7 linked regions of the Homo sapiens genome follow. The protein of the gene in region 4 purifies or fractionates together with the protein of the main gene of each other region. This does not show direct contact. Each region holds a gene or a part of one and is shown on either strand. Other genes may lie near its edges. The genes, in order: CDK11B, KRT8, LMNB1, POU2F1, EAF2, NPAT and STAT5B.

The links.
Region 1: the proteins of POU2F1 (region 4) and CDK11B purify together in Homo sapiens (affinity purification with western blotting; one study listed by BioGRID). This does not show direct contact.
Region 2: the proteins of POU2F1 (region 4) and KRT8 purify together in Homo sapiens (affinity purification with mass spectrometry, with the first as the bait; one large-scale study listed by BioGRID). This does not show direct contact.
Region 3: the proteins of POU2F1 (region 4) and LMNB1 purify together in Homo sapiens (affinity purification with western blotting; 2 studies listed by BioGRID). This does not show direct contact.
Region 5: the proteins of POU2F1 (region 4) and EAF2 purify together in Homo sapiens (affinity purification with mass spectrometry, with the first as the bait; one large-scale study listed by BioGRID). This does not show direct contact.
Region 6: the proteins of POU2F1 (region 4) and NPAT purify together in Homo sapiens (affinity purification with western blotting; one study listed by BioGRID). This does not show direct contact.
Region 7: the proteins of POU2F1 (region 4) and STAT5B purify together in Homo sapiens (affinity purification with western blotting, with the first as the bait; one study listed by BioGRID). This does not show direct contact.

What each region holds. Positions count from the first base shown.
Region 1 is NC_000001.11:1,656,205-1,660,315, reverse strand, and holds the start of CDK11B (cyclin-dependent kinase 11B), read left to right. Parts: upstream 1-1,311; 5' UTR 1,312-1,402; exon of another isoform or gene 1,403-1,860; intron 1,861-2,817; 5' UTR 2,818-2,830; coding exon 2,831-2,941; intron 2,942-3,013; exon of another isoform or gene 3,014-3,051; coding exon of another isoform or gene 3,052-3,060; intron 3,061-4,111. UniProt on the Homo sapiens protein: Plays multiple roles in cell cycle progression, cytokinesis and apoptosis. Involved in pre-mRNA splicing in a kinase activity-dependent manner. Isoform 7 may act as a negative regulator of normal cell cycle progression.
Region 2 is NC_000012.12:52,896,691-52,899,383, reverse strand, and holds the end of KRT8 (keratin, type II cytoskeletal 8), read left to right. Parts: intron 1-399; exon of another isoform or gene 400-484; coding exon 485-705; intron 706-864; coding exon 865-923; intron 924-1,765; coding exon 1,766-1,956; 3' UTR 1,957-2,193; downstream 2,194-2,693. UniProt on the Homo sapiens protein: Together with KRT19, helps to link the contractile apparatus to dystrophin at the costameres of striated muscle.
Region 3 is NC_000005.10:126,783,636-126,787,135, forward strand, and holds part of LMNB1 (lamin-B1), read left to right. Parts: intron 1-3,500. UniProt on the Homo sapiens protein: Lamins are intermediate filament proteins that assemble into a filamentous meshwork, and which constitute the major components of the nuclear lamina, a fibrous layer on the nucleoplasmic side of the inner nuclear membrane.
Region 4 is NC_000001.11:167,423,386-167,426,885, reverse strand, and holds part of POU2F1 (POU domain, class 2, transcription factor 1), read right to left. Parts: 3' UTR 1-3,500. UniProt on the Homo sapiens protein: Transcription factor that binds to the octamer motif (5'-ATTTGCAT-3') and activates the promoters of the genes for some small nuclear RNAs (snRNA) and of genes such as those for histone H2B and immunoglobulins.
Region 5 is NC_000003.12:121,841,709-121,845,208, reverse strand, and holds part of EAF2 (ELL-associated factor 2), read right to left. Parts: intron 757-3,500; coding exon 662-756; intron 1-661. UniProt on the Homo sapiens protein: Acts as a transcriptional transactivator of TCEA1 elongation activity. Acts as a transcriptional transactivator of ELL and ELL2 elongation activities. Potent inducer of apoptosis in prostatic and non-prostatic cell lines.
Region 6 is NC_000011.10:108,184,639-108,188,138, reverse strand, and holds part of NPAT (protein NPAT), read left to right. Parts: coding exon 1-41; intron 42-1,569; coding exon 1,570-1,657; intron 1,658-2,644; coding exon 2,645-2,736; intron 2,737-2,819; coding exon 2,820-2,907; intron 2,908-3,500. UniProt on the Homo sapiens protein: Required for progression through the G1 and S phases of the cell cycle and for S phase entry. Activates transcription of the histone H2A, histone H2B, histone H3 and histone H4 genes in conjunction with MIZF.
Region 7 is NC_000017.11:42,266,392-42,269,891, reverse strand, and holds part of STAT5B (signal transducer and activator of transcription 5B), read left to right. Parts: exon of another isoform or gene 1-1,606; intron 1,607-3,500. UniProt on the Homo sapiens protein: Carries out a dual function: signal transduction and activation of transcription. Mediates cellular responses to the cytokine KITLG/SCF and other growth factors. Binds to the GAS element and activates PRL-induced transcription.

The sequences.
Region 1 (4,111 bases), about 170 Mb from region 4:
GCTTCCAGTGACCCGAGATCGCGCCACTGCACTCCAGCCTGGGCAACAGAGCGAGACTCCGTCTCAAAAAAATAAAAATAAAAAAAGAGCTTGGGTACACAAAGCAAGCAGCATTTCATTCCGGGATGAAAAAAATTCCGATACCCATCGCCCTTCTTGGGCCCTTGTCAGTTTCTTGCCACATCTTTCATTTTCCCATTTCAGGCCCAGTAAATGCGGATGTTTATCTTCCATTGTTTGTTTCCTGAGATTCAGATGTCTAAAGCATTTTTCTGTGACTTTTCAAGTCAAGAGGAAAACCTGACATATGGAAAGGGAATTAATTGCTCGTTTTATCCTCTTCTCCTGCAATGCTCTGAATCCATGGGTTTGGAGTGGGGCCCTGGGAGTTGGGGGAAGCACCATACCCAGTGAGTCTGCACTTTGAGGACCCACTGCCAGTGTCAGCTTCAAAATCACATTGTAAAAGGCCGGGCGCGGTGGCTCACGCCTGTAATCCCAGCACTTTAGGAGGACGAAGCGGGCGGATCACTTGAGGTCAGGAGTTCGAGACCAGCCTGGCCAATATGGCGAAACCTCGTCTCTACCAAAAATATAAAAATTAGCCGGGCGTGGTGGCGCGGGCCTGTGGTTCCAGCTACTCGGGAGGCTGAGGCAGGAAAATTCCTTGAACCCGGGAGGAGGCTGCAGTGAGCCAAGACCACGCCACTGCACTCCAACCTGGGCGGCAGAGCAAGGCTCCGACTCAAAAGTAAATACATGAATAAATAAAATAAAATCACATCGTAAGAGCTCTCCCTGCCCTGTTTCTGAGTAAGGTTCAGAGTTAAATTCCGAGATCGGCCTTTACAAGACACACAGACCTGAGGCGCCTCACGAGGTAACCAGCAGGTAAATGGAGCGCGCTCCACCCACCCGCCACTAGGGGTCCCAGCGGTCAAGGGGGTGGAATGCGGGCGTCCATCGCGAAGGCATTCTGCTCGCAAGCCTTGGCACAGGCGCGGGCTTCGCTACCGGAAAAGTCCCGGTAGGATTCCGGAAGCCGGCCACGCGTTCCGCGCAGGCGCAAACTGCTCCAAAAGTGGGCGTCGCTCCTCCGGAGTCCCGATTCCTGCGTCACAGCCCGCGCCGAAGTCGGAAGTGCGCTCACCGGGCTGTTTCTTCTGGCGTCCTGGACCTGAGCAAGCGCTGTTTTATGCGTTATCATCCCGCGCAGACACAGGAAGTGCCGCACAGAGCGAGCCCCTGTCGTTGTCTCGAGTTCTGGGCCGGAGGTCGGCTATTATATCATCATTACGCGCCAATACAGGAAGTGACGATACTTTTGGCGCGCGCCGGTTGCTGTTTCTTCTCTGGCTCCGGGACCGGCGGCGGCGGCGGCGGCAGCGGCGGCGGCGTAGGGGTGAGTTCCGACTGGGCGGACCAGGTGTGGGAGCGCGAGGAGAACTGCGCACCGAGGTCTTTCTTCCGAGCAGGCCTCGGAGCGGGGCGGACCCGGGCCCGGGGGCGAGCGACACCCTCGCTTCCGCGGACAGTCTCATCCCGCACGGAACTTTGGGTGGTGGAGGCGGCGGGTCCAAACGCTGTCTGGAGCCAACGTCTGCCAGGCTGAACCTCAAGTGTGCGGGACTGAACCCGAGGAAATAGCCCAGTGCCCGGGTCAGGTGGCCTTGTTCGCGAGCACATCTCGGAGCATCTCCCCGGTCTCAAGGTGCAGCTGTCCAGTGTGCTAGTGGCTTCACGTAGTCCAAGCGGTCTTTCTAGCAGATTCTGACAGTAAAAGCAGTGTTTGATGAGTGGCAGGTCCTGAGTTAAGAGCCTTTAAACGGATGATCTTTAATCCGCGATCGATACTATCACGTAGGTGTTGTTATTCTGGTTGTACGGAAGACTAAACTGAGGTGAATTACGTTACCCAAGACCATACAAGAATGACAGAAACGAGACTTGATTTCAAGCGGTCATTTTTCAGAACCCATCACTCTTTTTTGTCGCCCATGCTGCAGCGCAGTGGCTGTTCACAAGCGCACTTCAGCCTGGAACTCCTGGGCTCAATCGGTCTCCCATCTCAGCTTGCAGAGTATATGGGACTACAGGCGCTCGCCACCTTGCCTGGCTTACAACTTATCATTCTTGTTTTTTTTTCTTTTTTTTTTGAGACGGGGTCTTGCTGGAGTGCAGTGACGCGACCTCGGCTCACCGGAACCTCCGCCTTTCGGATTCAAGCGATTCTGCTGCCTCGGCCTCCCGAGTAGCTGGGATTACAGGCACCCGCCACCACGCCCAGCTAAGTTTTGTATTTTTAGTGGAGACAGGGTTTTCGCCGTGTTGGCCAGGCTGGTCTTGACCTCCTGACCTTGTGATCCACCCGCCTCAGCCTAGAGCTTACTTTTTTTTTTTTTTTTTTTTTTTTAACCAAGTCTTACTTTGTTATCTAGGCTGGAGTGCAGTGGCGCAGTCTTGGCTCATTGCAGCCTTGACCTCTCTGATTCAAGTGATCCTCCTGCCTCTAGCAGCCTCCTTCCTGTAGCTAGGAATACAGGCACGCGCCACCACACTGGGCTAACTTTTGTATTTTTTGTAGAGACGAGGTTTTGCCATGTTGCCCGGGCTGGTGTTGAACTCCGGAACTCCAGCGATCTGCTCGCCTCGGCCTCCCAAAGTGCTAGGGTTACCGTCTTGAGCCACTGCGCCGGGCACAACTTCTTATTCTTAATGAGGATTTATTCTGAATCCCTCAAAAGTGACTAGGTTCAAGTGTTCAGCACCATAGCTTGCTGTGTCCTGATGTAGGCTGAATTATTTTTCTTTTTGCAGTGTTTTAACTCAAATGGGTGATGAAAAGGACTCTTGGAAAGTGAAAACTTTAGATGAAATTCTTCAGGAAAAGAAACGAAGGAAGGAACAAGAGGAGAAAGCAGAGATAAAACGCTTAAAAAATGTAAGCCATATTTTTTAAGTAAGTGGTTTTCTTAAAGGAGATTTAATTTCTTTGCCCTCATTTTTCCATTAGAACAACGCTTCTTCGGTGAAGTTCTTTTGTACTTCCAAATGTCGCAGGTGAGCCCAAAATCTATTCTAAAAATTAACAAAAACATTCAAATATTCAGTTGACATTAAAGGCAGATTTAACACACTAAAGCTGTGTCTAGATTGAGCATACATGGAGAATAAAATACGTTGAATGTTAAGTCATTAGCAAAACTGGACTAATTTTTCTCGGTTCATTAGTATGTTCATAATACTATCTCTAAGTATTTTTAATATAGTGGGAACTTGCCTTGAAATTAATATAAATATTTTACATCTTTCTTGGTTTGCATGGTAATGTACTCAGGAAACCTTTTTAGTAATTTGGTAAGAGGCATTGGCAAAGTACCTCTTTTGCTAAGATCTTTAGCAGCATCATTTGGGATGTTAGTGAGTACAGGCATACCTTGTTGTATTGCACTTCACTTTATTATGCTTCACAGATATTGAAATTTTTCCAAATTAAAGGTTTGTAGCAACTCTGCATTGAGCATTTTTCCAATAGCATGTGCTCACTTTGTTAGCTTTTTTTTTGTTTTTGAGACGGAGTCTCGCACTGTCGCCCAGGGCCGGGTTCACGCCATTCTCCTGCCTCAGCCTCCCAAGTAGCTGGGACTACAGGGGCCCACCAACATGCCAAGCTAATTTTTTGTATTTTTTAGTAGAGATGGGGTCTCACGGTGTCAGCCAGGATGATCTTAATCTCCTGACCTCATGATCCACCCACCTCGGCCTCCCAAAGTGCTGGGATTACAACAGGCATGAGCCTCCGCGCCCGGCCTTTTTTGTTTGTTTTTGAGACAGTCTTGCTCCATTGCCCAGGCTGGAGTGCAGTGGCATGATCTCAGCTAACTGCCACCTCTGCCTCCTGTGTTCAAGCAGTTCTCCTGTCTCAGCCTCCTGAGTACCTGGGACTACAGGCACCTGCCAGCACGCTCGGCTAATTTTTATATTTTTAGTAGAGACGAGCTTTCACCTTGTTGGTCAGGCTGGTCTGGAACTCCTGACCTCAGGTGATTCACCTGCCTCACCCAGCCTCCCAAAGTGCTGGGATTACAGGCGTGAGCCACCATGCCTGACC
Region 2 (2,693 bases), on a different chromosome or scaffold from region 4:
AGCACCTGGAAACTGCTCATGTCTCCCTGATCTGCTTCCTTAGTCTCGTTTATTTATTTATTTATTTTTGAGACAGAGTCTTGCTCTGTCGCCCAGGCTGGAGTGCAGTGGCGTGATCTCGGCTCACTGCAAGCTCCGCCTCCTGGGTTCACACTATTCTCCTGACTCAGCCTCCTGAGTAGCTGGGACTACAGGCGCCCGCCACCAGGCTGGCTAATTTTTTTTGTATTTTTACTAGAGACGGGGTTTCACTGTGTTAGCCAGGATGGCCTCGATCTCCTGACCTTGTGATCTGCCCGCCTCGGCCTCCCAAAGTGCTGGGATTACAGGCATGAGCCACTGTGCCCGGCCCTTAGTCTCATTTAATTTGAGCTGGGGGGAGTCAGCCTAGGTGGTGGTGGGGAGGACCCTGAGGGAGGGTGGGAGCACGGGAGAAGAGAAGGCATACCCAACCTGACCTACTTACCTGTCCCCTACCCCACAGAGGGCTTCCCTGGAGGCCGCCATTGCAGATGCCGAGCAGCGTGGAGAGCTGGCCATTAAGGATGCCAACGCCAAGTTGTCCGAGCTGGAGGCCGCCCTGCAGCGGGCCAAGCAGGACATGGCGCGGCAGCTGCGTGAGTACCAGGAGCTGATGAACGTCAAGCTGGCCCTGGACATCGAGATCGCCACCTACAGGAAGCTGCTGGAGGGCGAGGAGAGCCGGTGGGTGTGGGTACCTCTGACCGGACCTGCTTCCCTATCCCTGGGACCTGGGGTGGGGACGGTGGGAGCCCCCTGAAGCCCCTTGGGACTTGGGGTCCTGTTGTTCTGGGCCAAGAAGGGCTAGGAGTTGGTCCTGACACCCCATTTGTCTGGGTACAGGCTGGAGTCTGGGATGCAGAACATGAGTATTCATACGAAGACCACCAGCGGCTATGCAGGTGGGTGTCCCAGGGCCCTGGGATGAGGGCGGGAGGCAGGGCCCAGGGAGGCCTCAGCTCCAGGGAGGGGGCTGTGCTCAGTCGCTCACAGTGACCTCAGCCTGAGCACTCATGTTCTTGGGAGAATCCTAGGGTGGGGAGGCACATATTCAGGACCCCAGTAATAACTTTATTACTTAGTAACTTTACTATTAGAAAGCACCCAAATAAACCATAGCTGTGTGCCAGGCACTGTGCTAAGTATCCTACAGGTTTTATGTGATTTATTTTATTTATTAATTTAATTTAATTTTTTTGAGACGAAGTCTCGCTCTGTCACCCAAGCTGGAGTGCAGTGGCGTGATCTCAGCTCACTGTAACCTCCACCTCCTGGGTTCAAGAGATTCTCCTGCCTCAGGCCTCCCAAGTAGCTGGGACTACAGGCGCATACCACCATGCCCAGCTAATTTTTGTATTTTTAGTAGAGACGGGGTTTCACTGTGTTGGGCAGGCTGGTCTCGAACTCCTGACCTTGTGATCAGTGCTGGGATTACAGGCATGAGACACTGGGCCTGGCTGTAATTTATTTTTTATATGACACCTGTAAACGTCTTCAGTTGAGGAAGCTGAGGTGCAGCTAAATGTCCAAGGTCACACAGCTATATATATGGCAGCTGTTTTCCACCCTGCTCCTGGTTTTCCCTGACAGTTCTGGAGTAGTGAACCATGCAATCACTGATCAGGCAGAGCTGGGTTAACCTCCCATCCCTGGGGCTATGTTGGGAATGAGCAGGGAGAAGGGGCATGGAGCCTGCCATGGGGTGGGCTTCTGTACTCATGTGGCTACCTCTGTCCCTCACCAGGTGGTCTGAGCTCGGCCTATGGGGGCCTCACAAGCCCCGGCCTCAGCTACAGCCTGGGCTCCAGCTTTGGCTCTGGCGCGGGCTCCAGCTCCTTCAGCCGCACCAGCTCCTCCAGGGCCGTGGTTGTGAAGAAGATCGAGACACGTGATGGGAAGCTGGTGTCTGAGTCCTCTGACGTCCTGCCCAAGTGAACAGCTGCGGCAGCCCCTCCCAGCCTACCCCTCCTGCGCTGCCCCAGAGCCTGGGAAGGAGGCCGCTATGCAGGGTAGCACTGGGAACAGGAGACCCACCTGAGGCTCAGCCCTAGCCCTCAGCCCACCTGGGGAGTTTACTACCTGGGGACCCCCCTTGCCCATGCCTCCAGCTACAAAACAATTCAATTGCTTTTTTTTTTTGGTCCAAAATAAAACCTCAGCTAGCTCTGCCAATGTCCTTGCTTGTGTGTGCATCTGATGTCCACTGGGGTGGGAGGGAGGTGGTCAGGAGGCCTCTTCTTGGGACTGAGAAGCTGGGAGGGGTCCAGGAAGCAGGGGGTGCACAGCGGGAAAGTCTGACCCCCTCAGCTGTTCCTAAAGAGGCTCCTTTATTGAAACCTGGTTGAAACCTTGCTTGTTGCCATAGATATCTACACCTGTATAATAGTCATTGACCTGTGCACAGTGCTTTCTGGTTTACAGTGTGCTTTCAAATCCCAAGGTTCATGTGATCTGTGCAGCAAGGCTCAAGAGGCAGGCAGAGCAAGTTTTTGAGGGCATTATCAGCAGAGAGCTTAGTGTGCTTCCCCTACACCTTGGCATCAGGACTATCTGCATATAAGGAAAGCCAGGCTCAGAGAAGCCAAGTAGTTGGCTCATCTAGAAACTAGCAGATTTGGCATTGGAACCCAGAGCTGTCCAGCTCTCAGGCTTGTACTCCTCCTTGGCCAGGC
Region 3 (3,500 bases), on a different chromosome or scaffold from region 4:
GAGACTAGGTAATATTTTGCATACCCAGATTCAAGGAAGTAAACAGGCAGAATGAAAGATAAAGCACTATTAAAATATGGTGGGTCTTTTCTTTTTTGTGTCTTTACACAGTTGCTGGTTATATTTATTCTTTCGTTTGTATAGATGGTGTCACCTCTGATATGTCTGAGTTAGAAATCTTCAGACTTTTTTTTTATGCCATTAGTGTAAGTCTCTTTCATGTACAAATGTTGAGAATGAGCCTCAGGTATCAGTTGAGTAATGGGACCCTGTATAGGTCCCATTATTTTTAGGATCAGGGAAGTTTTTAAAATCAGTTTTAAACCCTTTTTACAGTGTACCTCTTTGATAAGGAGATTGTGCTTTGGCTGTCATTTGATTTTTTTTTTTTTTTTTTTTTTTTTTTGAGACAGAGTTTTGCTCTCGTTGCCCAGGCTGGAGTACAGTGGTGCGATCTCAGCTCACTGCAACCTCCGCCTCCCGGGTTCAAGCAATTCTCCTGCCTCAGCCTCCCAAGTAGCTGGGATTACAGGCATGCGCCACTACACCCGGCTGATTTTGTATTTTTTTTTTAATAGACTTGGGGTTTTTCCATGTTGGTCAGGCTGGTCTGGAATTCCCAACCTTGGATGATCCGCCCGCCTTGGCCTCCCAAAGTGCGGGGATTACAGGCGTGAGCCACCGCACCTGGCCGGCTGTCATTTGAATTTTTATTATTTTATTTTATTTTATTTTTTTGAGGCAGGGTCTCGCTGTGTCGCCCAGGCTGGAGTGCAGTGGTGCGATCTCGGCTCACTGCAACCTCCGCCCCTCCAGGTTTAAGCAATTCTCTGCCTCAGCCTCCGGAGTAGCTGGGATTACAGGCACGTGCCACCACGCCCGGCTAATTTTTTGTATTTTTAGTAGAGATGGGGTTTCACCATCTTGCCCAGGCTGGTCTTGAGCTCCTGACCTCGTGATCCACCCGCCTCGGCCTCCCAAAGTGCTGGGATTACAGGCGTGAGCCACCGTGCCTGGCTTGAATTTTTTTTTTTTTTTGAGACGGAGTTTTGCTCTGTCGCCCAGGCTGGAGTGCAGTGGCGCCATCTCGGCTCACTGCAAGCTCCACCTCCCGGGTTCACGCCATTCTCCTGCCTCACTCAGCCTCCTGAGTAACTGGAACTACAGGCGCCCTCCACCACGCCGGGCTAATTTTTTTTTATATTTTTAGTAGAGGCTGGGTTTCACCGTGTTAGCCGGGATGGGCTCGATCTCCTGACCTCGTGATCCGCCCGCCTCAGCCTCCCAAAGTGCTGGGATTACAGGCGTAAGCCACTGCCCTCCGCCCGAATTTTTAAAAATTAATTTTATTATTATTATTTTTGAGACGGAGTCTTGCTGTGTCACCAGGCTGGAGTGCAGTGGCACAACCTTGGCTCACTGCAATCTCTGCCTCCCGGGTTCAAGTGATTCTGCCGCCTCAGCCTCCCAAATATCTGGGATTACAGGCACCCGCCACCATGCCCGGCTAATTTTTTTTTTTTTTAATTTCTAGTAGAAACGGGGTTTCACCATGTCGGCCAGGATCATCTCGATCTCCTGACCTCGTGATCCGCCCGCCTTGGCCTCCCAAAGTGCTGGGATTACAGGTGTGAGCCACGGTGCCCTGCCTAAAAATTAATTTTTTTTTTTTTTAATAACTGAGTCTTGCTCTGTCGCCAGGCTGGAGTGCAGTGGCACGATCTCAGCTCACTACAGCCTCTGCCTCCCGTGTTCAAGCAATTCTCCTGCCTCAGCCTCCTGATTAGCTGGGACTACAGGCACACGCCACCACGTCGGCTAATTTTTTTTTTCTTTTTCTTTTTCTTTTTTTTTTTTTGTATTTTAGTAGAGACGAGGTTTCACCAGGTTGCCCAGGCTTGTCTTGAACTCCTGAGCTCAGGCAATATCTGCCTGCCTCAGCCTCCCAAAGTGCTAGGATTACAGGTGTGAGCCACGGTGCCAGGCCAAAAATTAAATTTTTTAAACAGCAAATGTATATTCATTATAGAAAAGGAGAAAACACAAACACCAAGAAGAAAATTCTTGGTTGGGCCTTAGGTTGGGCCCAACCCTTAGGTTGGGACCAGCGGCTCATGCCTGCAATCCCAGCACTTTTGGAGGCCGAGGTGGGCGGATCACCTGAGGTCAGCAGTTCGAGACCAGCCTGGCCAACATGGCAAAACCCTGTATCTACTAAAAATACAAAAATTAGCCGGGCATGGTGGTGGGCACCTGTAATTCTAGCTACTTAGGAGGCTGAGGCAGGAGAACTGCTTGAACCTGGGAGGCAGAGGTTGCAGTGAGCCGAGATCGTGCCACTGCACTCCAGCCTGAGTGACAAAGCAAGACTCCCTTTGGGGGGTGGGGGAAAAGATGCAGGAAAAAAAAAAGCTGACATTTATTTTGTGCCAATTCTGTTTGCCAGGCATTACAGTAGATGCTTTACAGACATTATCTTTTTTTTTTTTTTTTTTTTGATGCAGAGTCTGGCTCTGTCGCCCAGGCTGGAGTCCTGGAGTGCAGTGGCACGATCTCGGTTCACTGCAGGCTCCATCTCTTGAGTTCACGCCATTCTCCTGCCTCAGCCTCCCAAGTAGCTGGGACTACAGGTGCCCGCCACTACGCCCGGCTAATTTTTTGTATTTTTTAGTAGAGACGGGGTTTCACTGTTAGCCAGGATGGTCTCGATCTCCTGACCTCGTGATCCTCCTGCCTTGGCCTCCCAGAGTGCTGGGATTACAGGCGTGAGCCACCGTTCCCGGCCAGACATTATCTTTTAAGCTCATGATAACTGCTGATGAGTAAGGAAACTTCAGGCTCAGAGAGTTTAAGTATTTTGCCTGGTATTACTTAGCAAGTAATGAAAGCTAGAAAGGATGGTAGCCTGACTTCTAGCATTGTGATAGGGTGTTCACATACATAACCTTATTTCATCCATACAACAGTGTTCTACAGGTATTACTCTGGTTTACCGACATGTAGCAGGCTCACAGAGCATCATTATCTGTGGTTGGTACTTGAAGTCTCAGATAGGATAGTTGATTTTCAGATCCCTTTGGGTGCTACTTTTGGAAATGCTACTAGTTGCATGTTTTTCACGTTGATAGTTTGTAGCCTTCAAGGGAGGTAATTTTGGATTTGTCAGAAGGGTAGTGGTCAGTAGTTGAAACAGCTGTTTGAAATACTGAGGGCTTCATTTGCTAAAGAAAGGTGAAGATGAATTACTGAAAGAGATCGCTTTTATCTTTTTTCTCTTCTTAAAAAGCTACTTTCCAACTTTATTCCATGCCTTAATAATTTAAAAGAAATTAAAACCTCTAAATAAATCTTTAATACTCATGACAGGGTGTTCTTTCATTCTTTATTCAAGACACATTTTTGTGGAACAGGTACTATATGCCAGGTCTTGAACCAGATGCTGGGAATAGAGAAATGGGATACTCAGTCCCCATTATCAAGTTACTTACAGTCTAGTGGGG
Region 4 (3,500 bases):
AATAGCCACCCAGAGTGCAGAGTTATCTAAGAGAAATGTAGAAGGACTCCCAATAAACCACCTCAGAATTGTCACTGCCTCATTCAAGCTGCTGGACAATTTTGGAAAGAATCATTTACACCACATCTTAAGTTTCCACAAAGAAGAACTCAAACTCACATTTTAAAGTACATAAAACAAAAAGTTCTAGGAGGCCGGGGGCCAATTCCCCTTGTGCCCCTCCTTTGACAACAGTGGACAAACACCCCTGAATTAATAATTAAGACAAAAAAGGAAGAAAAAAAAAGTGAGTTAAGATATTGAAAGAGAGAAAGAAAACATCTTTAGAAAAACACGATCACTGTCTCTTTAAAAGAAAACAAAATCCCAGTTGGGAACAGTAATGAGGAATATGCAATCTAAATTGACACCTGGTGGGAGATTATTATTGAATATTATGTACACTCAGAACTTTTTTCATTTTCTTTTTTATTATGAACACCTAGGCAGTGAAAACTGTTATGTTAATACATACATAGACACACCCAAAACATACAAAAATACTATTATTTCAAACTACTAAGAATAGGACAGTTCAATTATTTTCATGCTATGACTTTAAGAGCATTACACTGAAACAAACAAGAAGTTAAACGACATTTTTTTTTTAATATCCCAGAAATATACCAAAATATACATCTAAGCTTTGGAATTACTGAGGTTAGACTAATGCAAGTGCTGGGTAATCGTACTTAATACACGAGTCTAAGGTTCTGCAGGAAAGAAATTATCTTTGGTATCTGCATCAGGCTAATATTATTAACATTTGGATTTTGCTTTGGGATAGAGCTTGTGTGACCCAAGAACCAAGTACCCCCCTCCCCCAACCAACTGAGATTAAAAAGATCCATGTAAAAAGTTCCTTCATTTGCAATCCCCCCACCCCCCAAGTTAAAAAGTCACAGGCATCTACCTAGCACAAAAGGTTGTGAAGTACAATGCATAGTTGCACAGTGGTGCTGCAAAAAGGAAAGAAAACTACAATAAAGAGAAATGAAAAGCTTGATAATCTTTCTGCATGTTTTCTCACAAACAGGACAGCCACTTCCAAGCAGTTCCAGTACAGGAAAAGAAAAAAAGGCTCAGAAGGGCACCGTGGCGTGCATTCGCCCAGCCCCAGAGGTTAAAGCACCCAGCAGAGCAGCCAATCGTGCGCCAGTGTCTTCAACGTCCCCCACTCTGTGGAGTCCTCGGGCCAGTCCAGCAGCAGCTCCCACCCTCCCTAGGCCCTGTGCTAAGTCCCCATAGTGACCCTGGTTGGTGTAGGGTGGATGATGGTGGTGATGGGGTTTTTTGACTTTTGTTTTGGAAAATCTGAAATGCCAATTTGTTTCAGGGCATGCTCACAAGTTTGTGAGGGCCAAAGCTAGGGGCATGCACCTGTGCTGGACCCTGGAAGGTGGTAAGCAGCTTGCCTGCCCTTTCTGATCCAGTCAGAGGGTCCCCCCGCCCCACCTTCCCTGGCCTCACTCTTCTAAGTGCCAGGACACCACAGACTGGACTGATGCTGAAGACTTCCCTTTTCTTTGGTTCTTTTGTTTGTTTTGAGTTTATACAATCATTAAGAAATCTTTGGTTTTGGCTGGAAATTTGAAAAACAAAACAAAACAAAACAAAACAAAGAAACCACCCTCCCCTGGCTTATAGCAGCAGTATCATGACCTGGCTAAGCTTTTTGTCAGCATTAGGGGTGGGAATTGAAGGTTGGGAACTACATTCAAAGAAAAGGTGAAAGGGCTGGGGATGCAGCTTCTAGAGAGCCCATTGGATATAAGATTGTCAAATAATAATAATAATAATAATAAACTTAAATATTTGGATATTTTTGGTCATGTCAAAGGAAAAAAAGTGAAATGTGTATGCAGCAGTCAGCTTAAAGGAGCCTTTGGTGTCTTCCCTTCTACCCAAAGTCCTGAAAAGAAACAGAACCCTGAGGCCTCAGAGGAGAAGGGGTTGGCCTCTACCCCACCAAGGAAAAGGCAAGTACAGAAGTTGACGTGTGGCCAGCTGTCAGAAACACAGGGTGGGTTAGGGGTGTGGATAGCTGGCCAGCCCCTAAAGGCAGGGTGGCAGGGAAAGCAGATGTTAAGAGACCTGTGAAGACCCCTTGCAACAAAAAGGAATAGAAGATTGCAATTTGCCCTCAGTTTGCAGTAGCTTTTAAGCAGCGACATTCAGAGGCTTTAGGGGGTCCCACCCTAGGCTACAGGTCCCATGATGCTATAGGCCAGAGTTTAACATGACTGAGGAGGGAGGGCAGACTTGGCAACTCTGTAGGATTTCGAGAAAGTTAAAGCAAGTCACTCGGTCACGAGTTAGAAATGAGGTATACAACAGCTCCTGGACTTCTGGTGGGTAGAACAGCCCACGCTTACTCACCTAGCCTTCACTACTACCACAGATGAGGGGATGGAAGTACAGACTTATGCGGGAGGAGAGCGTTTCCTGCGGAGTGAGACCTCCTGCGGACTGAGCAATGCACACGTGCCCATGCACGCAGAGGTAAGAAGCTGGAAGTCTTTCTTTCCCCGACCTGACCTTAGGGAAGATACAACATTTATGTTGTCAAAAGCCAATGTTATAATATGATTGCAAAATCTTAGGCTTCCTGCACCAACCTGTTCCATGTTCTCCAACTGTTTGCAGTTTTAAACCTATTCAGGCTGGCACTAGTCCACTCTACTCTTACAAAGTGTGTGCCTTCTGCAGACTCACGCAGGAATGGAACCAAGGACATGGCATCCCCGACTGCCTACAACTACAGCCTTTTGTAGCAGACACTGTCATTTTAGCTTCTGAAAGTGCATTTCATTTCTTCCTATACTTTTAGACCATGAGACTCATTAAGGCTGGGTGGGAGCACAAAGTCTTTTCTCTACTTGGCTCTGTCCTTTTTCATTTGAAAGAGATCCCAATCTTAAGAAACTCAAGTGTTTGGACGTCTCATTTATACACAGCGCTGTATCCAGCTGTCTGCCTGCAGACTTTGGGATATAATGTTTGAGAACTCAATGCCACTGCCAATTTATGAAAGAAGCCTTAAGCTGCTCTTGTGAAGCTGTGGCTAACTTATACAATGATGAACAAGTACACAAAGAAAACAAGGGAAAACTTTGCAGCAGTCCTCAATGTTTTTTACAGTAAATTAGTTTTGGGGTCTTAACTTTTTGACAGTGTCCTGGGTTTAAACCAGAAGGTGGCCCTGGGTGGTGGAGCCCTGTGCAGGGTGGGCAGATACAGGGACACAGAAACAATCATAAATCACATCTTCCCTACCAGGTCCAAGGGACCTTTGTTTCTGTGCTCAAAGTGGTGTTCCATTACACACACCTTGTTTTCCCAGAACTTCTGTTTCAAGTGCTCTAATCTTCAACATCCCTATTACCTACTTATAAACCTATCTAGCACTTTGACAAGTCATACAATATTAATACCACCTTTACATAATGTCAGAACAATAA
Region 5 (3,500 bases), on a different chromosome or scaffold from region 4:
TTCGGCCTCCCAAAGCGCTGGGATTACAGGGGTGAGCCACCGCGCCCATCCCATTTTTCATTATACTATGATTTACTACGTAAAGTCACTTATTCCACAAACTCTTTGTTCTTTCGGCATCAGAGCTTTTCACATACTGTTCTGTTTGCTTATTCTACTCCTTGTCTACCCAATAAAATCTTACTTGTCCTTTAAAGGCTCAGCTGAAATATTGCTTGCTTTATGAAGCTTTTTAAGATTCCACCAGGCAGAGTATTTGCTTCTACTTATGTGGTTACATAGAATTTCATATATGCTCTAACTTATAACACTAGATGTTATGTGTCTGTCTGCTATAAAAGATTAGGACTAGAAGGCAAGGGATATGTTACTATCCTAAGGTCAGTGTTTAAAATCTGGCTTATAGTAGGAATTTAATAAATATTTGTTTAGACTCTAATTTTTTTTCAAATCATTTGCTATGATAGTTCTTGGAACTATTAAATGGACTAAAGTATTTTAAGTTTTTTTTGCCTAAAGTAGTTTAAAATATGGTTTTTGCTTATCTGTGCTTACTAATTACTTTAACCAATTATCACTACACAAATTGTGCAATTATTTTCATTTAAATTTACTGAGAATCCCACAAAAGTGATCACTTTAAAGATACAGAAATACTCACTTCTATATTTGGCAGAGTTATGGTCACCTGTTCACCTTCACCAACCTCAAGGTATCCTTCAGAAGAAGTGTCAATAGAAGCAGGTTTGAAGTCATCTAAAAATAGATACAAATACCAATTTTTGTAAAATGTAATGATATTTGGATATAAAAATTATGAGCATGTTTCAGAATGATAAATCATTTTTCAAGAGCTTTGTAATTAAAATGGTTTAAAGTATTCATATTACAAATGAACAAACAAAATACAATCTAGTTTATTTATTTCTGTATGCATAATTCTGAGAAAAAAGAAATAGCTATACTCTAAAACAGAATTACTGACACTCATGCTTCCATAGAATCCTGTTTAGACAAGATGAACCTGACTAACATGTTCTACTGCTAAAAACTAAATAATGTCAGTGTTTTCACAACTTGCTAAAAAACTGATATAGGTAGAATGTTTTCAATTTTCAGTCCTTTTTTCCAATAAATTTTTCTTTTTTATGTCATTTTTAATGGCTGCTGACTTAGTTCATGAATGTTGGCCCATAAATTTTTTTTAAAGCACCTTTGGTGCCTACTACCACTTGTCTGTCATTCTACTACCACTTGTCTGTCATTCTATCCAAACAAAATGAATGAATACATAGCAAATACAGTACATATTAATGAAGAAACTTAAGAAAAAGTAATCTTTCTAGTTTAACAGTTTTTTTCATGAATATGTACACCACTAAATGATGTATAATTTAACCAAATCTGTCACTTTAGAAGATCTTAAAATACAATTTAATTTTGAGTTAAATCATAGTTCAAACGATGCCATTAAAATCTATCATCTAGGAGGAAATTCAGGGTACTAAGATATTTCACATGTTAAACAAGCTTAAAACCCTCTAAGCAATTAAAGCCATTTAAAACTAATTCATACGAATATACATCAACAGCTAATAATTCTGATATATAGTTCCCTGTGTTATATATACATTAGCTCCTTATTAAAATATGGTATAATGCAAAAGAGAACAAAAATTAAGCTTTGACTTTTACACAGTGACACATGTAACCACCAACCAAATCAAGAAATAGAACATTACCAGCTCCACGGAGCCCCCTCCCAGTTATTACCCATTGTTCCAAAAGATTAATCTTCATATTAACAAAAAGGCCCCAAAGACAGAAAGTCTAAATCCAAAGTAATGGATATTTATAAGTGGAATTTAGGGAATTATAATTAGAAAACCTTGGGAAAGGAGAATTTTCCAATAATCATCAAATTATTGCTCTGTAAATAAACAAAGGCTGGCCCTGCTTCACGATGACAATTAAAATAGCTGACATTTATGGAACACTTACTACATGCCAGGCACCATGCTTAACACTTCATATTTACCTCTTATAACAACTCTGAAATAAATGAAATCCATTCCTCTATTCCTTAAATAAACATAAATGCAAATGAATATAAACAATTTACAGAAAGTATTTTTATAATATATTCTTCATGCTGCTTTAATTAAAAATTGAATAAGATCTTGATGCTTATTCCTAGATTTTAAGATACAGTTATAAAAATAACATAAGCAATATGAAAATGTGAAAGAGTTTTGATTTACAGTATATCCCTAGAAAGTATAACTGAAGAGTCAAAGGATAAAGATTAGACTGAAAATAAGTTGAGGAGTTTGTTAGCAGTGGCAAAGTGAGAAAAGTGAAAGGTATAATTAAGGTGTTAAGTTTTAGATGCTTGAAAAAGGGTTTGGACTGAGGGAAATAAGTTTTAAATAATGTCAATTGTTGAAAGGACAGTGCTATTGAGGAGAAAAAAATCAGAACTGAACTTGAGTAAGTATCACAGAGATAAAGTAGAAGAAGCCAGAAAATCTAAGAGAATGAACACAGATATGAACAAAAACAACAATAACAGCTATTACATGCTGATCAATTTTAAAAGTTTTTCCTGATGATTTTTACTTTGAAGCTTCACACCAATCCTGAAAAGTAGTGAATACCCCATCTTACAGATAAGGGAAGTGAGGGTGGAAAAAAATTAAGTTCCTTGCCCAAGATCATGCAACTGTTTTCTAAAGCTAGAAAAACGAACTGCAAAACCCAGTTAGAATAAAAAAGATGAAAGGTTGGCCAAGATATATCAATGTCAACAAAGAGAGAAAAAAACTTTAGTTTGGGCTATCAAATACCATTTATGAATCTAAAATAAGAACCAAAGTCATTTAATATGGATATATACAGTATAAATGAAGTAACTGCCTCATAAAATCTTTCACTATTTATAAATAAGTTATCGTCATGCCCTATGTGGGTGCCTATACTAGTGGACTTTGTTGATCCGCAACTTTATTAATTATTATTATTTTTTGAGACAGGGTCTCACTCTGTCCTGCATGCTGGAGTGCAGTGGCTAGATCTCGGCTCACTGCAACCTCTGCCTTCCGGGTTCGAGCGATTCTCCTGCCTCAATTTCCTGAGTAGCTGGGATTACAGGCACATGACACCACACCCGGAAATTTTTTTATTTTTTTATTTTTTTTTTATTTTTGAGACGGAGTCTCTCTGTCGCCTAGGCTGGAGTGCAGTGGTGCGATCTCAGCTCACTGCAACCTCCGCCTCCCGGGTTCAAGCGATTCTTCTGCCTCAGCCTCCTGAGTAGCTGAGATTACGGGCGTGCACCACCATATCCGGCTAATTTTTGTATTTTCAGTAGAGACGGTTTCACCATGTTGGTCAGGCTGGTCTCGAACTCCTGACCTCGTGATCCGCCCGCCTCGACTTCCCAAAGTGCTGGGATTACAGGCGTGAGCAACTGCGCCCGGCCTTATTTTTTATATTTTTAG
Region 6 (3,500 bases), on a different chromosome or scaffold from region 4:
AAAGCACATGCCAGTTTAATGTCTCCCGGTAGACGCAAAAGGTAAATGCTTTTTAAAAGAGACAAGTTACCCGTATCCATTAAAAAAAAAAAAAAAGAATTACATCAGGATACTTACATTGTGAATAAACTAATAGGACCAGATTATGTTCTGATCTATATTAGAACTATTCCAAAATACATTGTCTTTCTTCACATTTTAACCTGCCTGAAATTGGGTTGCATCTCTCAATTAATGGCATATCACTGTTTCATGGGAAATATGTTTATTCTGTAATGGTATATAAAATAATGGTATATCTTACAAATGATGTTATCTGAGATTTTTTGCAATCCATGTTTTTTAACTGAATGTAAATAATACAGTTATGTTCTATGCTCCACACACATTTAAAGTCCTAAGATCAATTGATGGAATTTTTCCAGGCACAATCTTTGAGAAAAGTGTTTTTCCCAAAACACTTTTGAGAAAAGTGTGTCTTTGTTTGAAGGATATTTTTTGAAAGAGATAATAGTTTTAAAATGTTTATTCTAGTTTCTTAGCTCCCAAGCCCTGGGTATTTTTGTTAGAGTTTTTACTTTTGGTTGTCTTTCATTCAAGACTGACCTTAGTTAGCCTCCTTTATTGGAGCCTTTCTCACTTCACCATATAAAATAACAAACAGCAATATCCATTTTTTTATTTTTAGAGATAGGGCCTTGCTGTCTTGACCAGGTTAGAGTATAGTGGTACAATCATAACTCACTGCAGCCTCGAACTTGTGGGCTCAGAAGATCCTCCCACCTTAGCCTCCCCAGTAGCCAGCAGCACAGGCACATGCCGCCACACCCAGCTAATTTTTTTATTTTTTGTAGAGATGGGGGTCTCACTTTGTTGCCCAGGCTGGTCTGAAACTCCTGGCTTCAAGTGATCTTCCCACCTTGGCCTCCAAAATTGCTGGGATTACAGATGTGAGCCACCATGCCCAGCCATAAAAGAGCAACATTAATATTTAACATTTATAGGAACCCTGACTTTTTAAATAAAGTCTTTATATATACTTTATTTCATTCCATTCTTTAGTAAACCCAATAATGCAGTTGGTCATTATAAAGTAGGTTAGAGAGTCAGAGCTTGCTGTGCTTCAGACCATAGGTAGTAAGTGGTAAAGCTAGACTTCAAACTCATTTTTTTGAATTCAAGACTACTAATACTTTTTGTACTTCCCTTTGTTCCTAACACAAATAGAGAAAATATAGTTGACCTTGAATAACATGGGTTTCAACTGCATGGGTTCATTTATACTCAAGTTTTTTTCAACCGAACACAGATTAAAAATTTAGTAGTAAAACCTGCCTATATGCAGTGTGCTGACTTTTTGAATACATGGGCTTCCTAGTGCAGACTGTAGGACTTGAGTACATGTGGATTTTGATATCCTTGGGGGTCCTGAAACCAGCCCCCTGCAGATACAGGGACAACTGTATCTGTTCTGTTATGGTGATCTTAAAATTTATGTCTGTATATGTATTTATCTTTAAATCTGTTAAATATAGTGGTTAAAAGAAAAGCTTTTAAAATGTGTTTCAGTGAATCTCAGAGAAAAAGTACCACTTTGTCTGGCCCTCATTCAACAATACGGAATTTCCAAGATCCAAACGCTTTTGCAGTAGAAAAAGTAAGTGACTCTGCCAAACTTTGCAACTTAAAATATTCCTGAGTTTAAAAATACAGATATATACACAAATGTATGTATGTGTGTATGTATCAAATAAAGAAACAGGAGTAAGTTTATAGATATCTGTAAATACATTGTTGTTGTTGGATCATTTAATAAAATACTGGCCAGGTGCTATGGCAAACACCTGTAATCCCAGCACTTTGGGAAGCTGAGGTGGGCAGATTGCTTGAGCTCAGGAATTCAAGACCAACCTGGGCAACATGGTAAAACCCCCTCTCTACAAAAAATACAAATATTAGCTAGGTGTGGTAGCACGTGCCTGTAGTCCTAGCTGCTTGGGAGGCTGAGATGGGAGGACTGCTTGAGCCTGGGAGGTCAAGGCTGCAGTGAGCCATGATCATACCACTACACTCAAGCCTGGGTGACAGAGTCAGACCCTGTCTCAAAAAAAAAAACTGGCCGGCGAGTAGTGGCTTGTACCTGTAATCCCAGCACTTTGAGAGGCCAAAGCCAGCGGATCTCTTGAGGCCAGGAATTCAAGACCAGCCTGGACAACTGTCTCTACTAAAAATACAAAAATTAGCTGGGTGTGATGGCACACGCCCGTAATCCCAGCTACTATTCAGGAGGCTAAGGCACAAGAATTGCTTGAACTGCGAGGTGGAGGTTGCAGTGAACTGAGATTGTGCCACTGTACTCCAGGCTGGGCTATAGAGCGACACTGTAAAAATAGGGCATTTACTGGGGTTTGATGATGAGTGTGGAACTGTATAAGAAAGAGTTGGTGAAAGATCTGTGAAAACATTTGCAAATTATGAAGTGTTGTATTCAGGTATTAATATGGAGGGAGCCATCACAACTTCTGAGTTTCCATTTAGGTTTATTAAAACTATCCAGCTCTTATCGGTTTGTTCTTTTCTTATAAATATTAAATAGCAGAATACTCTTTATTGTCCTTTTGCTAACAGTGGCTTTCTTTTCCAGCAAATGGTTATTGAAAATGCACGAGAAAAAATACTAAGCAACAAATCTCTTCAAGAAAAGCTAGCAGAAAACATAAATAAATTTTTAACTAGGTAAGCTATATATGTTTAAAATGCCTAATTGTTTTTGCCTAATTGCATAACTATAATAAAGATTTTTCTTTCTTTATTAACAGTGATAACAATATTGCCCAAGTACCTAAGCAAACAGATAACAACCCTACGGAGCCAGAGACTTCAATTGATGAATTCCTAGGACTTCCGGTATGGGTGGTTGGGGTGTGCATGGGTGCGTGTGTGTTACTTATACTTAAGATTGATGGTAATTTTGGTTTCATTTCAAAACCATTGCCAACATAAGATGTTATGATTTGCCATCTAATTAGATAAAATGATTTACAATAGTAAGATAAAACTTTTCTTCATTCATTGAATGCAGTCTGTTCCTGAAAAACACATTGGATGATGACTTAAAATAGAATCTATATTGCATCCACAGTCATGGATTCCTAAGTATTCAATACTTAAACATTTATTAGTGGGTATATTTGTGTGTAATAAACAGTAATACAGTGTTTATATAAATTACATTTCTTCTACACTGCTACAAATTGTATAATAATTTAGAGAAACAATGAAATGATACAATAAAGATATGTAATGGGGCCAGGCATGGTGGCTCAATGCCTGTAATCCCAGCACTTTGGCAGGCCAAGGAGGGCAGATCACTTAAGGCCAGGAATTCGAGACCAGCTTGGCCAACATGGTGAAATCCCATCTCTACCAAAAATACAAAAATTATATGGGCATCATGACACATGCTTGTTATCCCAGCAGCTCGGGTGGCTGAAGCAGGA
Region 7 (3,500 bases), on a different chromosome or scaffold from region 4:
ATGTCTAGAGCTCTGCAAAGGCCATTAGAAAATAGTCTCAGATTTTTTTTTTTTTTTCATTTATGATGCTTACTTTCTCTCAGCACTTTTCCTTGGGAGTGGATTGTGAAGTTAAGTCTTGGAAACAGAATTCACAACCCTAAAGCGTAGTGCTTTAACTTTGGGAGATCAAGTCACAGACAAGAAGAACTTCAATTCCCTGTGCAGAGTATAAACTTGTTCAAATAAACAGAGGATGTTAGCTTCCAGGATTGTCAACTGTCACCTTTGACCAGGGTTGAATTTTCTTTGAATGTTGACAGAAGTTACAATGTCAGTGGAAAAAGCTTAATGTGAGGTATCTATAACTCAGAATTTCCTTATGTTTGTGTCAGTGAGATCCTACAATTAAAGCTGCTTCTTTTTTTCTATGTCTGATGAGTTTTAAAAGCCTTCACTGGGGTTTTCCAGCCTTTAGGTGAGAGTAAGTTAAAAAGTTTGTGAGAAACTATTTTTTGTTGTCTAAAATTCAGAGCCTAGGTCGGGCCCAGTGGCTCACGCCTGTAATCCTAACAATTTGGGAGGCCGAGGCAAGCGGATCACGTGAGGTCAGGAGTTGGAGACCAGCCTGGCCAACATGGTGAAACCCTGTCTCTACTAAAAATACAAAAATTAGCCAGGTGTGGTGGTGCACGCCTGTAATCCCAGCTACTCAGGAGGCTGAGGCAGAAGAATCACTTGAACCCAGGAGGCAGAGGTTACAGTGAGCCGAGATCGCACTACTGTGCTCCAGCCTGGGAGACGGAGCGAGACTCCATCTCAAAAAAATAAATAAATTAAATAAATTCAGAGCCTATAGCTGGTGGCAAGTCACTGTTTTTGAAGGAGTGGGATTTTAAAAAATCTAACCTGGGCTAAATGTTAAGTTACATTCATACATGTCATTGTAGCCTATATAAAAAGAAACTTGAACACTTGATCTCTTAAAGTACTAAAAATTGGAATTCATCAGCTTTGTAATATAGCATTCATTCTACAGTATATTTAAATAGGTAAAATGTTCTGTTAGAAATAATGCTAATTCTGTTTTTTTGTTTAATGTTTCTAAAAATCTTTTGGTCATCTTTTAGGTTTAGGAAAAGTAGCAAATTAGAGATCTACAGAAATCTACAGCTCTTTAAAAATGAAACAGTTCACCCTGTGAATTTGTTTGCAGGATTGGTGATCTGTTTCTGATGCCAGGAAGGTGGGACTCCTATCTCATTTCTGATAGAAAGTGAGGGAAAGCTATGTATAGTGAGAACTGGATACTAGATTCTTATTCCGAAGGCATGGAAGGTTTAATATGTAAGGATACAATGTAAATAGTCCCTCTTTTTGTATTTTTCTTTGGTTATTGTTACGTAACTATAGTCGTTTGTCACTTAATGATACATGGTGACAAAGTTCTAAGAAATGCATTAGGCGATTTTGTCATTGTGGTACCATCATAGAGGGTACTTACACAAACGTAGATGGTGAGCCCTACTGCACACCTAGGCTGTATGATAAAGCCTATTGCTCCTAGACTACAAACCTGTGGAACATGTATACTGTATTGAGTACTGTAGACAATTGTAACACAAGGGTAAGTATTTGTGTATCTAAACATATCTAAATATAGAAAAGTTACAGTAAAAACATGGCATAAAGGATAAAAAATGGTACATCTATATAGGGTACTTAACAGGAATGGAGCTTGCAGGACTGGAAGTTGCTCTGGGCAACTCAGTGGGTGAATGGTGAGTGAATGTGAAGGCCTAGGACATTACTGTACATTACTGTAGATTTTAAAAATACTGTCTGGTTAGGCTACATTAAATGTATTTTGAAAATTGTTTCTTTCTTCAATAATAACCTTAGCCTACTGTAATACTTTTACTTTGTAAACTTTTTACTTTTTTTTTTTTTTTTTGAGATGGAGTCTTGCTCTTGTGGCCCAGGCTGGAGTGCAGTGGCGTGATCTCGGATCACTGCAACCTCTACCTCCCGGTTCAAGCAATTCTCCTTCCTCAGCCTCCCGAATAGCTGGGATTACAGGCGTGTGCCACCACGCCTGGCTAATTTTTGTATTTTTAGTAGAGACGGGGTTTCACCATGTTGGCCAGGCTGGTCTCAAACTTCTGACCTCAGGTGATCCACCCACTTTGACCTCCCAAAGTGCTCGGATTATAGGTGTGAGCCGCCGTGCCCGGCCAACTGTTTACTTTTTTACACTTTTAAACTCTTTTGTAGTAACACTTAGCTTAACACATAAACATGTACAGCTGTGCAACAATATTTTCTTTATGTTTTTATTCTTTTACTTTTTCTCTTTTTAAATAATTTTTAATTTTTCAAAACTTTAAAAACTTTTTAATTTTTCAAAACTTTAAAAACTTTTTCTTAAAAGTGAAGGCATAAACACACACATTAGTCTAGGCCTACACAGGGTCAGGGTCATCAGTATCACTGTCTTGCACCTCCACATCTTGTTCCACTGAAAGGTCTTCAGGGGCAGTAACACATATGGAGCTGTCATCTCTTGTGATAACAATGCCTCCTGAAGGACCTGCCTGAGGCTGTTTTACAGTTAACTTTTTTTTTTAAGTAGAAGGAGTACACTCTAAAATAACGATAAAAAGTATGGTAAATACATAAACCAGTAACATAGGCATTTATTATCATTATCAAGTATGTACTGCACGCAATTGTATGTGCTAGACTTTCACATGACTGGCAGTGCAGTGGGTTTGTTTACACCAGCATTGCCACAAACATGTGAGTCATGCATTGCATTACAACATTATGATGGCTACAGCGTCACTAGAGGATAGGAATTTTTCAGCTACGTTTTATTATCTTATGGGACCACAGTGATATATGTGGTCTGTCATTGACTGAAACGTCATTATGTGGTGCCTGACTACATATATGGAAACTCTGAGTGTAGTCATGTTTTACAAATGAGTTTATCTTGCAGTGAGTTTAAATATCAAGTAAAAATACTAATTTCATTGTAATGTATGAAGAGATTGGCCTTTCTCCTCATGTTGAAGGTATCAAAACAAAATAGAAAATATTTGGCTTCCTGAGTGGCATGGCTACAATTCACATGCTGAGTTGGTGATGAGGCAAGATCCCTTGACTTTGCAATACCAGAAAAATGCACATAGTTAAAAAAAAATAGAGACAGGGGTCTTGCTATGTCTCCAGGTGATCCCTCCCACCTCCACCTCCACACCTCCCACCTCAACCTTCCACAGTATTGGGATTACAGGAATGAGTCACTGCACCGGGCCAAAAAGCATATAATTTTAAGGGAATGATTTTTTTTTTTTTTTTTTTATTTTTTGAGACAGTGTCTTGCTCTGTTGCCCAGGATGAGTGAAGTGTGCCAGGAGTGGGTCCTTAAGTAAGAAAACGTATTACTTTAGACACACATTTAAAATTTTGTCCAAAAATGTGATATTCTCAAAATTTATGGTTTTGAATTTTATTTA